Linked DNA regions of Homo sapiens. The protein of the gene in region 2 binds, or shares a complex with, the protein of the main gene of each other region. Each region holds a gene or a part of one and is shown on either strand. Other genes may lie near its edges.

The links.
Region 1: EIF3E (region 2) and EIF3D share a complex: the UniProt entries of both Homo sapiens proteins name them as parts of the eukaryotic translation initiation factor 3 (eIF-3) complex.

What each region holds. Positions count from the first base shown.
Region 1 is NC_000022.11:36,526,163-36,533,939, reverse strand, and holds the start of EIF3D (eukaryotic translation initiation factor 3 subunit D), read left to right. Parts: upstream 1-4,773; 5' UTR 4,774-4,864; intron 4,865-7,777. UniProt on the Homo sapiens protein: mRNA cap-binding component of the eukaryotic translation initiation factor 3 (eIF-3) complex, a complex required for several steps in the initiation of protein synthesis of a specialized repertoire of mRNAs.
Region 2 is NC_000008.11:108,238,708-108,245,731, reverse strand, and holds part of EIF3E (eukaryotic translation initiation factor 3 subunit E), read left to right. Parts: intron 1-3,818; coding exon 3,819-3,933; intron 3,934-5,656; coding exon 5,657-5,774; intron 5,775-7,024. UniProt on the Homo sapiens protein: Component of the eukaryotic translation initiation factor 3 (eIF-3) complex, which is required for several steps in the initiation of protein synthesis.

The DNA.
Region 1 (7,777 bases), on a different chromosome or scaffold from region 2:
TGGGATCACAGGGTGCCTTCCACCACACCTGGCTAATTTTTGTTTTTTTAGTAGAGGATTTCACCATTTTGGCCAGGCTGGTCTCAAACTCCTGACCTCAGGTGATCTGCCCGCCTTGGCCTCTCAAAGTGCTGGGATTACAGGCATGAGACACCACCACTGGCCAGATTCTTTTTTTCATTAACTCAGTCAATGAGTACCTACTTAAGCACCTACTCTATGCCAGTGATACGCTTTGGCTGTGTCCTCACCAAAATCTCATCTTGAATTCCCATGTGCTGTGAGAGGGACCCAGGGGGAGGTAATCGAATCATGGGGGCAGGTCTTTTCCATGCTGTTCTCATGATAGTGAATAAGTCTCACAAGATCTGACGATTTTAAAAGGGGGAGTTCCCCTACACAAGCGCTCTCTCTTTGCCTGCTACCATCCATGTAAAATGTGACTTGCTCCTCCTTGCCTTCTGCCATGATTGTGAGGCCTCCCCAGCCATGTGGAACTGTAAGTCCATTAAACCTCTTTCTTCTGTAAATTTCCCAGTCTCCAGTATGTCTTTATCAGCAGCATGAAAATGGACTAATACAATCACCTGTTTTAGAAATGATGGTCAGAAAAGACCTGCATAAGGAGTTAACTCTCGAGCAGAGGCATAGATGATGAGACCAATTCAACTACCAGGAAACCTGGGGGAAGAGTGTGCCATGCAGAAAGAACGTCAAGTCCAGAGGCCCTGCTGAGATGGAAAGAAGGCTGGTGGGCTGGGCACAGTGGCTCACGCCTGTAATCCCAGCACTTTGGGAGGCCAAGGTGGATGGATCACTGGAGGTCAGGAGTTTGAGACCAGCCTGGCCAACATGATGAATCCCCGTCTCTACTAAAAATACAAAAACTAGCCTGGTGTGGAGGCACACACCTGTAGTTCCAGCTACTTGGGAGGCTGAGGCAGGAGAATCACTTGAACCCCAGAGGCAGAGGTTGCAGTGAGCCAAGATCACACCACTGCACTCCAGGCTGGACAACAGAGCTAGACTCCGTTTCAAAAAAAAAAAAAAGAAAAAGAAAGAAAGAAGTTCAGTGTATTTAAGGCACAAGAAGAATATGGTGGCTAGAGGTAGACCAGTGGCCAGGTGAGGTGGCTTACACCTGTAATCCCAGCATATTGGGAGGCCAAGGCTGGAGGATGGCTTAAGCCCAGGAGTTCCAGACCAGCCGGGGCAACATAGTGAGACCCCATTTCTACAAAAAATTAAAAATTAGCCAGGAGTGGCAGCATGAGCCTCTAGTCCCACCTACTCGGAGGCTGAGGTGGGAGGATTGCTTGAGCCCAAAAGGTCAAGACTGCAGTGAGCCATGATCACACCACTGCACTCCAGCCTGGACAACAGAGCAAGACCCTGTCTCAAAGAAGTAAATATTTTAAAAATAACAAAGGTAGACAGTGACCACACAGGCCACAAAAAGATATTCATATTTCCCTCTAAGCATATAATGGGAAGCTAGTAGAAGGTTGTGGACAGATTCCTTTGACCACCATATAGAGAAGAAACCCTAGAGCAGCAAGAGTGTATCCAAGCGTGATGTGAAATGGGGATAAAAAGTGATAGCATTCGGCTGGGCACAGTGGCTCACGCCTGTAATCCCAGCACTTTGAGAGGCCGAGGCGGGTGGATCACAAGGTCAAGAGTTCGAGACCAGCCTGACCAACATGGAGAAACCCCATCTCTACTAAAGATACAAAAAATTAGGCAGGCGTGGTGGCACACGCCTGTAATCCCAGCTACTTGGGAGGCTGAGGCAGGAGAATTGCTTGAACCCGGGAGGCGGAGGTTGCAGTGAGCTGAGATTGCGCCACTGCACACCAGCCTGGGTGACAGGGCAAGACTCTGTCTCAAAAAAAAAAAAAAAAAAAAAGTGATAGCATTCAAGATGCATTGTGCAAGTAGAATAAAGAGAACATAGTGAAGAACTAAATGTGGGAGGGAAGGAAAAACGAACTACCAGTGATGACTACAAGGCTTTCCACTGGGCACAATTCACCAGACACCATTAACAAAAATTAGGAAAAAAAAAAAATGAGCAGTTGGGAGAGAGCTTATGGAAATAGGTGCTGCTATTAGCATTCTCATTTTTCAGATGAATAAGCAGGTTTAGAGAGGTTGAATAGGCCAGGTGCGGTGGCTCACGCCTGTAATCCCAGCACTTTGAGAGGCTGAGGCGGGTGGATCACAAGGTCAGGAGTTCGAGACCAGCCTGACCAACATGGTGAAACCCCGTCTCTACTAACAGTACAAAAAATTAGCCGGATATGGTGGTGGGCACCTGTAATCCCAGCTACTCGGGAGGCTGGGGCAGATAATTGCTTGAACCTGGGAGGCAGAGGTTGCAGCGAGCCGAGATCTCGCCACTGCACTCCAGCCTGGGCAACAGAGCGAGACTCTGTCTCAAAAAAAAAAAAAAAAAAAAAAAGAGGTTGAATAACCTGTCCAAGTTCACCCAAATGATAAGTGGAATTACTAAGTCCTTTCACACACATTTATTTTCACCCCCACAGCGCCCTCTAATTATCATCTTCAATTTACAAATAAGGAAACAAGGCAAGGAATGTGAAGGCCACACATAGCTATCAAGTGGCAGAGCTGGCTGGGCACAGTGGCTTATGCCTGTAATCCCAACACTTTGGGAGGCCGAGGCGGGGGGATCACAAGGTCAAGGGATTGAGACCATCCCAGCCAACATGGTGAAACCCTGTCTCTACTAAAAATATAAAAATTAGCTGGGCATGGTGGCGCATGCCTGTATTCCCAGCTACTCAGGAGGCTGAGACAGGAGAATCACTTGAACCCAGGAGGTGGACGTTGCAGTGAGCTGAGATCGCGCCACTGCACTCCCGCCTGGCAACAGAGCGACACTCCGTCTCAAAAAAAAAAAAAGAAAAGAAAAGAAAAAAAAAAGAATGTGGCAGAGCCTAGACTTCAGGTATATTTTCTAATAAAGGAGACATACTAGGCGGCTAAGGAAACCTATGTCAGGTAGAAAGGATCTGAGGTTTGAATAAAGTCATGCCCTCAGATTATCTTTCATTGTTTTAAAATTCCGAAAGAAAGACACCAGGAGGAACTCCATAGCCTGGGAGTTGCTGAGAGGACAGCACTGTTATCTACTGTAGTAAAGCAGTTCCTGAGTCGTCACTTCAGAATCACAGCTAATGCGGAGCTCTTGGGCTCCAGCATAAACATATCCGTATAATCTATCAAAATGAGACCCAGAATCTGAATTTTTAAAAATACTATCCTGGTCAGGTGTGGTGGCTCACGCCCGTAATCCCAGCACTTTGGGAGACCGAGACAGGAGGACTGCTTGAGCCCAGGAGTTTGAGACTAGCCTTGGCAACATGATGAGACTTCGTCTCCACAGAAGTTTTTTTTTTTTTTTTTAATTAGCCAGGCAGCCGGACGCAGTGGCTCACGCCTGTAATCCTAGCACTTTGGGAGGCCGAGGTGGGTAGATCACCTGAGGTCAGGAGTTCGAGACCAGCCTGGTCAGCAAGGTGAAACCCCGTCTCTACTAAAAGGAAAATTAGCCGGGCATGTTGGTACACGCCTGCAATCCCAGCTACTCGGGAGACTGAAGCAGGAGAATCACCTGAACCTGGGATGCGGAGGTTGCAGTGAACTGAGATAGCGCCACTGCACTCCACTCCAGCCTGGAAGACAGAGCAAGACTCCGTCTAAAAAAAAAAATTAGCCAGGCATGGTGGCATGCACCTGTAGCCTCAGCTGCTCCGCACGCTGAGGCGAGAGGACCACTTTAGACCAGGAGTTAAAGACCAGCCCGGGCAACATAGTGAGACGCTGTCTCTACAAAATTTTTAAAAATCATTAGCTGGCCGGGTACGGTGACTCATGCCTGTAACCCTAGCCCCAGTGGGTGGACTGTTGAGCTCAGGAGTTTGAGACCAGCCTGAGCAACATAGCAAAACCCCATCTCTACCAAAAATACAAAAATTAGGCAGGCGTGGTTGTGCGTGCCTGTGTACACCAACGACTCGGGAGGCTGAACTGGGAGGATCGCTTGTACCTGAGAAGTCGAGGGTGCAATAAGCCGTGATCCTGCCACTACATTTCAGCCTGGGCGACAGAGCGAAACCCTGTCTCAAAAAATAAATAAAAATAAATAAAAACACTGTTCCAGAAATCCCTGTCCTACAATTAAGTTTGAGAACTGCGGAAGTATGGTTTGAACTCTGGCGGTTAGAACCCTAAACTAACAGTCTGATCTAGGCAGGTCACTTGGCACTTCTGAGCCTCAGTTTCCACAACTATAAAGGCGGAGGAGTAACAATAAGGACCGCCTAAGACACCGACGGACCTCCCCTGCGCTGAGTTTCACATTAAGCAGGCAGGTAGAACAGGCGGGGAGTCGCGGGTGACGGTGGGATACATGGGGGCTGAGGCGCGCCGCGAAGCATTGTGGGACACAGAAGGGCGCCAGTCGCTCCCCGCCTCGAGCTTCGATTGCGCGGCCGCCAAGTTTCAGTGATGAACGCCCTCTTTGGGCGTCCCCGGATACCGCCTGACGTAGTGCCAATCACACCTCTCGCGTCTCGGCGCCTCGGAGGCTAATGAGGACGCCTGGCGAAACGCAGTAACGGATTTCCGGGTGGACCTTCGCTTTACGGCTCGTGAGTTCTTCCGCCCAACCCAGAGGAAGCGGGAGAGCAGTTTACGACAGCGCCGGTCGTGTTTACGGCGGCGCCCGCTGCGCGCGCATGTTTCCTCTTTTCCTGGTTTCTCAAGAGTGCTGCTGCTAACGCGGTCCCCGGCACGCACCATCTGTTGCCATCCCGGCCGGCCGAGGCCATTGCAGGTGAGCGGCGTGTTTCATAGGTTCCTGCGGCCCTCCGGAGCCGGTTCGGACTAGGTCCAGCCTTCGGGGGGCCTCCCGGAAGAGACCTCTCTTAGTCCCTTCCTGCTGTTGCCGTCCCTCCGCTGGGCGGGGCAGGAATCCACTTTCGGGGGCCCCGCGTCCCGCACGCTACTGAACGCGGGACACGACCTTGTGGGTGAGGTCCTTGGCCCTCGGCCCTGCTCAGTGCCCATGAGCTGGGTGAATTTGATTGTCACTTAACTCACCTGGGTTAAGACGGAGGGGTAACAACAAAGTCTTTCTGAAGTGGCCGAAAACTCCCTGACTTTTTGAGTGAGGTCTTAGGGGTACCAGGCTGAGCGGTGTTTGGCCCCTGTTCTTAGGAATTCACAGTGCATAGGTTATCTTTCCTTTTTTGTGAAACTGGAGGCTAGGATAGAGAAGTAGATTTGATCTCTGATCTTAAATCTACCCCACCCCCTGTTCAGCGATGGACGGCTTATGATCTGTAGTGGCCTGCCAACCACAGAGCCCCTTCTGAGTGCCCTCTTGGAACCTCCCTATCCTGCCCCTGTGACTAGTACAGCTGTTACTTCGTTTTTGCTGAGCGGCTCAGTTTCTCCTCCTGGTTCCGCTCTGCTCTTAAAAAAAAAAACATTTATTAAAGCCAGGGTATCTCATCCCTGGCTTTCCAGGGAGGTGATGCAGGTCGAGCCTCGGGCCTCTTCCCTTCTTGAGCTTCTGACAGAACCCGATTTTTTAAAGTGTGTTTTGAGACTCGTTGTCTTGGTATTATGATGTACGGTCTCAAACCCCTGATCTTTGCGGGCTGCTGCCCAGCTGTAATATAATGGAAAGAAGGCTGGACTGACAGCAGGCAACCCTGGAAATCAAATCTGTTTTGAAATGATGAGGTCAGCTGCTTGAGTAGGCTGAGCTTCAAATTTTTGCCTCTAAAGTAGGGGTGGGGGGGTGGTCAATGGTGTTAAATTATCTGGTATAGGGCCTAACACGTAGGAGCTCAGCAATATTTATTTAATACAAATTGTTCTGAGACCACCACCCTTTTTCTTCTGTCCTCTTCCTATAGTTTCTATTAGAAAGATGAAACTTCTAGGTTCATCCTGTGTTGCTGTCACCCAAATGTCATCTCTGAAGGAAGCCTCAATCTCCCCAGCATGGGGCTTTGAGGAGAGTTTACTAAGTTCAGCATACCTGTTCTTTTGATTGCTCTCCAGCCTCCAAGAAACATTTGATTTTTGTTTTTTTGAGACGGAGTCTTGCTCTGTTGCCCAGGCTGGAGTGTAATGGCAGGATCTTGGCTCACTGCAACCTCCGCCTCCTGAGTAGCTGGTATTACAGGTGCCCGCCACCACGCCCAGCTAATTTTTGTATTTTTAGTAGAGACTGGGTTTCACCATGTTGACCAGGCTGGTCTCGAACTGCTGACCTCGTGATCCGCCCACCTCGGCCTCTCAAAGTGCTGGGATTACAGGCGTGAGCCACCGCGCCCGGCCTCCAAGAAATACTTGTGTAGTGAATTTTCCTCTAGGAACTCGCCTTCTAAGCATTTTCAGAAGGTTACAACGGAAGATAAATGCATAGGTTTTTTTATAGAAGTGTCGGGCAGCCATCTGCTATACAGCGCCGGTTTTTTAATTCCCAAGAGGGCTATAGCATTATGCAGAGTGCAGACTCTGGGGTCAGACTGCTTTGGTTCACGTTTTTCATCCACTAGCATTTCAACTTTGGGCAATTTCTTCATTTCTCTGTGCTTTGGTTTTCTTATCTGGAGAGTGCGGATAACATTGGCTCCTACCTCACAGGATTGTTGGCAGGACTGTATGAATGAATGAGTGGTAAACAGTAAGAACAGTGCCTGGCAGTATTCATGAACATTTAACATGGCAACTTTGGGCCTGAGGTCTGTGGGGACCTCCTTGGCCCTCTGGCAGTTCTTCTGCCTGGCTTTATGTCCGCTTGCACTGCACACAGGATTTGCGTTGATGGCAGAAAATTGAAACAATGAGAAAGGAAAATTGAATTTCAGGATATACTTAAAGATCTTTTTTTCTCAGCACTCTATATACATAAATGCACTTTTGCAAGTCTGAATACTTGTGTGGCATTATACAAAGTGCTTAGAACAAGGATCTTGTTTATTTTGCAGATGGAAAAGACTAAGGTGGCTGGACGTGGTGGCTCACGCCTGTAATCCCAGCACTTTGGGAGGTCGAGGCGGGAGGATCATTTGAGGTCAGGAGTTCAAGACTAGCCTGGACAACATGGTGAAACCCTGTCTCCACTAAAAACACAGAAAATAGCCAGGCGGCGCTTGCCTGTAATCCCAGCTACTCAGGAGGCTGAGGCAGGAGAATCGCTTGAACTCGGAAGGCGGAAGTTGCACGCCACTGCACCCCAGCATGGGTGACAAAGTGAGACTCTGTCTCAAAAAAAAAAAAGAAAGAAAGAAAAGACTACTAAGTCTTAGGGAAGTTGAGTTTGTATGAATTGGTGAAGGTATATCTCAGAACCAAAACAAGGTTACTATATTTGAAAAAACATTAGGACATTTTATCAAATCTGACACCATTAAATTTTTTTAAACACTTATGTAACACAGAAAAAGAAAAACTACCAATCAATACAACACCCTGTCAAACACAAGGTGCAGCCTCATTTTAAAGATGTTACAGTAAAAAGAGAGTGTCGTGGAATTAATGAAATATGAAAAATCAGTTTTGTTTGCATTCTTCTCAGTTTTAAGTACATATTCACAGTATAATTAACAAAAACAGTAGTAGTCGCTCAACAGTTGAGGGTTCCATTTTGCGTGTTGCTTTTTGAGTTCTATCATTTATGTCTTTGCTTACTTCATATGGAGGGTGTTTTGTACTCTGAGGCCTTCGTTCA
Region 2 (7,024 bases):
TCTTCTTTATTTTCATGTGAAGCAGAAGGCCAGATAGTGAAATATTTAGGACCCTGGGCTCTGAATTGGACCTTTCATGACTCGGTCATTTAATACCTCTGTGCAGTCAGAGCAGATTCTTTTACCCTCTTAACCTTTTCTCATGAATAAAATGTTAATACTACCACCAATCTCATCGGGTTAGAAAAATTACATGAGATAATGCATATAAAACACTACGCTCTTCTGGGACAGAGTGAGTACTCCTTAATGTTTTGTGTTTTGAGACAGGGTCTCGCTTTGTCACCTAAGCTGGAGTGCAGTGGCACAATCTTAGCTCATTACAGCCCTGACTTTCTGGGCTCAAGCAATTCTCCCACCTCAGCCCCAGAAGTAGCTGGGACTACAGGTGTGCGCCACCATGTCCGGCTGATTTTTTTTGTATTTTTTGTAGAGATGGGGTTTCACCATGTTACCCAGGCTGGTCTCAAACTCCTGAACTCAAGTGATCTGCCACCTTGGCCTCGCAAAGTGCTGGGATTACAGACATGAGCCACCACCCTTGGCTCTAAATGTTTTTTATTTTGGAAGACTAGCCCATTCTGTATTGGTATGGGATGGGAGGGGGGGGCAGTGAGGGTTTTGAGGAGTAAGGTAAGGACTGGAAATGGTTACTAAGAAACTGATCAAAGGAAAGTACAAGGATTGGTTAAGTGTGGAGGGCCCAACTGAGATTGGAAATCATACCTTAGAGCTAATAATGGGGTCATTCTCAGGGCGAGGAGCGGTAGAAGGCTATGGGAGTAGTATAGACATATTTAGGGGTAGGCTTGTATGTAAATGCCATTTAGAGAAGCACAGATGTGATCGAATAACATTATTCCCTAATTTTGAAACATTTTGTAGTCATCCTTAGCCAGAACCTAGAGAATAGGTGACTTTTTTTCCAGAGTTAGTGATTGACACTGAATTGTATATAGTTGGAGAAATTAGTTTGAAAGAATCAATGATAGAACTGAAGAGAAAATCTTTGAAATAGCTAAAAATGATATCCAAACTAAGGCAGAAAGTGACATCAAAAAGGGTATTACAAAAATTAGAAAGGGCAGAAAGTCTGAGATGATGAAGATTTTAATGGTAATGGTGGAAGGGGTTATCAGTTTTAAGTTGGAATTCTTGGAGATGAGGGGTTATCAGTTTTAAGTTGGAATTCTTGGAGATGAGATACATGATGAAAATTGTCATAATTTGAGGAATAAAGGAATTTTAGGGCTCAAGCTTTTAAAGAGTCATCAGTATGGCATTATATTTGTGTTGAATGACAGCAGAGGAAGAGACAGCAAAAAAAGATTCTTAATCTGTTAAAAAGTAATATGTTTTCAAGAGGTTGATAGACGACGGATCAGCAGACTATAGCCTGGGAATCAGATAGCAGCCTGTTTTTGTGTGGTTTTGGGGCTAAGAATAGTTTGTAACAGAGGAACATTTGCAAACATTAGCAATTATAGAATATTAACTTTATACCCCAATTAAGTGAAATAATTTCTCTTGAAAAAGCATTCTATTCTTATTAATAGACCTGTATTACAAAAACTTTTACTGTTATTATTTCTGTTTCAAAATTTTTAAAAAATTGTGGAAATTTGATTCTCGTTTTTCATGTGAGTACTTATATAGTATTTTCAATTGTTGCTTCTTGATACAAAGTCTGAAGTATTTGCTTTCTGCTTATGAGGCAGAATTGAGAGGCATATGTAGATTTGAGAACAGGACAGTAACACCTGATGGTAGAGGAGCAAGGCTATTGAATCTATTGTGGAGAGAGACGTGGCAAATTAAAAGTTACTAGTGGAGTGGGGAGAGGTAGCGTGCTTGGAAAAGAATGTTTTTATTTAAGATTAGTGTTTCTATAGGGCAAAGTGATGAGAAGTTAAGGTTTTTTAGGTAAATTTTTTATCAGATATGACGTTCATTCATACAAGTACACAAATATAAATGTACTGGTCAATGATACATATTTTTTTCAAAATGAATAGCGAATACATTTATGTGACCACCACTCAGATTAATAAATAAAACATTACAGACATCCTTTTTTTTTTTTTTTTTTTTTTCTTTTTTTTTGAGACAGAGTCTTGCTCTGTGGCCCAGGCTGGAGTGCAGTGGCGCAATCTCGGCTCACTGCAAGTTCCACCTCCTGGGTTCACGTCATTCTCCTGCCTCAGCCTCCCGAGTAGCTGGGACTACAGGCGCCCACCACCACGCCCGGCTAATTTTTTGTATTTTTAGTAGAGACAGGGTTTCACCGTGTTAGCCAGGATGGTCTCGATCTCCTGACCTCGTGATCCGCCTGCCTCGGCCTCCCAAAGTGCTGGGATTACAGGCGTGAGCCACTGCGCCTGGCGACATCCTTAAACCTTCATCTTGACCCCTGTTAGTCACTACTCACACCCCCTAAAGGTAAGCTGTAGTCTGATGATTCATTTTGCCTGTTTTTGATTTTTATATAGGTGGAGTTAAGCATTTACCACCATGTACTGCTTTGTATGACATCTTTCACTCAGCATTGTTTGTGAGTCATCATGTTTTTAGGATAGCAGTAGTAGTTCATTGATTTTTCAGTGCCGAATGTTAATCTATTATGAGTATGCTGTGGTTTGTTTTCTCATTTTAACATTGATAGACTTGGCTATTACAAATAGTGCTCCTGTGTACATTTTTGGAAGTGCACTTTGACTATATGCACCCATTTGTTTTGGATGCCTCGAAACAATTGCTGGATCAAAAAGTATGTTTGGCTTTGGGAGATAAAAATCTTACAAAGTAGTTGTATTCCTGCCAGAAGAGAATAGGTTCCAGTTAGTCTACATCCACACCAACACTGGTATTGTCAGGATTTTTTAGGTTTTTATTGTAATTTTTAGTATGCATTTCCTTATGATTAATGACGTTGAGAACCTTTTCATGTGTCTGTTGGCCATTTGGTTGTCTTCTTTTGCGAAGTGCCTATCTTTTAGCCATTTCAATTGCAAGGTCTGTCTTGTCTTACTCATTTATAGGAGTTCTGCATGTAATTTGGAAGGTTCGATTTTGCTCTCATGGCTAAATACCCTTTGACCACCTTCATCTTTATTTTTTGTGGGCAGTGAAATATTGTGGCATTTTCTTGGATTTTTCTTTCCTTGCAAAATTAAGTTCAGTACAGAAATCTTTTCTTTTGCTGAAGCATTTCTGTCCGTGAATATTTTGTAGAATCTTTACATATTACTCAGTACACTTCATGTTGTTGTGAGTTTGTGTATATGTATCTATTTGCTCCCTGTACTATAGGTTAAATTATGCTTTTTTGGATCCTTTGCAAAGCAAAAGCCTGATCTGACATGGTTGACTTAAAAACTTGGTGCAGGTTGTTTCAGCAATGTGGATGGAGAAGCATATAGGAGTTTATTACTGATTACCTGGATGTGGAGAAGTGACAGCTATATGTGCTTTACAGGAAAGATGGCGTGGGTTTTATTTATACACAGCCTTGCCTAGAAAGGGTAAGAGATGGTTTGTAGGGACACATAAAAAATAAGGTCATGTAAATCAGAAGTAGGTGGGAATGTCTACAGTAATTCTCTTCATTTTAAAATTTTTAGGTAAGTAAAATACTTTTACGTCTATAGGTTGGTTGCTTGCCATATTGCTTGCCATTATTACAAGAGGGGAATGTTAATGGTTTATCGTATTTTATAAAGTATTTCTTGAAATATATTTCCAGGTAAATTAGTTTTAGTATTAATCAGTTTATTTGGGGAACTTAAATATATTCATTAGAAAGTTATCTTCTTTTGCAGATATATAATGAAAAGGAATTATTACAAGGTAAATTGGACCTTCTTAGTGATACCAACATGGTAGACTTTGCTATGGATGTATACAAAAACCTTTATTCTGATGATATTCCTCATGGTAAGTTTTGTCATTAGAACTGAAACTTGTCTTGTGACTTGAGGATGTGTGTATTAAAGTTTTATGATTTATAAGACAGCTTTAGCCAAAAGGCTTAAATATGATTTGAATGTTAATGTTCTTTGGGTGAGAGGTTATATAAAGGTTTCATATCTTCCGAAATATATTGTTTTCTCCCTGTGAAAGATGTGGAACTACTTTAAAATATGGTCATCAGATGCCTTCATTTCATAGTATGTATCATCAAAGTTGTGCTTATGATTCACATTCCTTAGAATTATCTGAGAATGTTGCAGTTCTTGGGTTGCTAACTTTTTCAGTTAGTGCATTGTGTGCCTTAGAGTTTTGTGTTTTTTTTTTTAATTTTGAGGCATCTAGTGTAGACATTGTTCTCCAAATATGGTCCCCAGGACCAGCATCATCAGTTCACCTGGGAGAGCTTGTTAGAAATGCAGGTTTTTGGCCACACACCAGACCTACTTAATCAAAACTGTTAAGTGGTCCTCTTAAGTTTGGGAAATAATTCTGTGTCATTTCTTCAATGCACATTACATTTTTAAAGGTTCCAAGAATTTTGGCAGTAGAGAAATACAGTATACTGTGATTAAATTGGCATTTCTCAAAATTTGATCATAGATCTTCTGTGTTTCAGAAAGACTGCTCTAGAATATACTTTCTAATATATAATACAGACATTATTACATTAAACATAATCCACATGTTTGACTTGTAGTTCCCTGCAATAACAGTATCTCTTTTTTAGTTTGTCATGGATAAACAAAAAGGAAACTATTTCTTAGTTTCTTTCTTTTTTTTTTTGAGATGGAGTCTCGCTGTGTTGCCCGGGCTGGAGTGCAGTGGTGCGATCTCGGCTCACTGTAAGCTCCGCCTCCCGGGTTCACGCCATTCTCCTGCCTCAGCCTCCCGAGTAGCTGGGACTACAGGTGCCCACCACCATGCCCAGCTAATTTTTGTATTTTTAGTAGAGACGGGGTTTCACCATATTGGCCAGGCTGGTCTTGAACTCCTGACCTCGTGATCAGCCCGCCTTGGCCTCCCAAGTTGCTGGGGTTACAGGCGTGCGCCCTTGCCCCTGGCCTATTTCTTAGTTTCTTAATGAAACATTAAGGTGTTACCAGAGTTGGTTATGTGCAAGTTTTCTCCACCTTTTCATAGTATAGTAAAAGGAACGATAGAATTTGGTTTGAGAGATTATAGAGCTGGATTTGTGGTTAAAAGAGATTATTTAATGGATTTAAATTCCATTCAACCTAGTTGATAACCTGTAATAGTAATATGTAAATCCCTCTGAGTTTTTCTTCAAAAACTCTGGGATAATATTCACCTAAGAAAATTAAATGAGAACAAATATAAAAACACTTGGAAAGAAGTTTCTGCAATGGAGAATTAAATGATAGATAATTGGGTCCTACCCTTTTTTTCTTTCACATCCCTCTGTCACCCCAAGGCTGTATATTCTCTAGTTTCCCTCAAGAGTAGGAAGAGGATTCCCTTTTCCTTTTTGTGCCTTTGTATTAGTAGAAAAAAGAAATTAGGGATCGGGGACATTTCTGACTGAGTAGCCCATGGCATATGAATATATTGGGGGTAAATAAATATATGTATAGTTTAAATACACTGAAAAATTTCCAGACATTCTCATGATGAGTAGCACAATTTAACATTCCTTAACATTGTAGTGCTCTTCTGCATTTTTAATTAGCTTTGAGAGAGAAAAGAACCACAGTGGTTGCACAACTGAAACAGCTTCAGGCAGAAACAGAACCAATTGTGAAGATGTTTGAAGATCCAGAAACTACAAGGCAAATGCAGTCAACCAGGTAAACTCGTCTTAATTTTGAATTCTAAAAATTCTCCTTTCTGGATTAATACAAATGTTAATTCAAACTTTATCCAGTATCCCATAGTAAAAGTTCATGGTTTAAATGAGTGCTTTATTCATTTTTAATTTTTGTTTATCCTTATTTTGTAGGGGCCAGTATAATTAATAAATGTTAATATTAACACTAAGTTTTTTTCCTAAAAAAAACTTCTTTAGTACTTATCTATACTGATTATACTACAGAAATTCCATCTCCTGTTTCCCCCTTCCTGGGGACATTTGGCAATGTCTGGAAATACTTTTTGGTTGTCATAACTGGAGGGGTGCTATAGGGACCTAGTGAGTAGAGGCCAGTTATGCTGTTAAACATCCTACAGTGCATAGGACAAGCACTGCTGCCGCTACTCCCCAACAAAGAATTATCCGACTGAAAATGTCCATTAAGAAACCCTGTTCCACTGTGTGGTGGCTCACACCTGTAATCTCAGCACTTGGGGAGGTGGAGGCAAGTGAATCCGTTGAGCCTAGGAGTTTGAGACCAGCCTGGGCAACATGGCGAAACCCTCTATCTTACCAAAAAATTAAAACCAATAAAAAGTTAGCCAGGTGTGGTGGTGTGCGCTTGTAGTCTCAGCTTACTTGCTACTTGGGAGGCTGAGGTCAGAGGATGGCTTGAGCCCGGGAGGCGGAGGTTGCAATGAGTCAGTGTCATAATACCACTGCATTCCAAAGTAGGTGACATAATGAGACACCATCTCAGGAAAAAATAAAAAAGAAACCCTGTGCTTGGGCAATACCTAGAACCTTAGAACACATGGGTATCTCGTTATAAGAGAAACCTGAGCTCACTTTATCCCTGGCTACATTCTTTCATACCCTTCCAAGCTCCATGCCCAAGGAGGGTAGTTTTGAGCTGATAAGATTATTTTATTCCTAACTTCCCTTTACCTACAAATAGACGTTACTGTTTCGTTTCCAAAGAAAACATATTGCCTTAGTCTGACGTAGTACATGTCACGGGTGGAAGTCTTTTGGGTTACTAGAAACATTTAAAAATAAAATCTCTTACTAAAATTGAATATTGTCATTTGAGATAAATCCTAGCTACCAGTAAATTCACTTGAGGAATTGCTGGATATTTTGCCGTGCTATACCTTTGATTTCTATGTATTTAAACCAAATTTTTAGAGATTGGCTCTTAAGTTTTCCTTTGTGATTTGTGAAGGTGTTACCAGATATTTTTAGAAA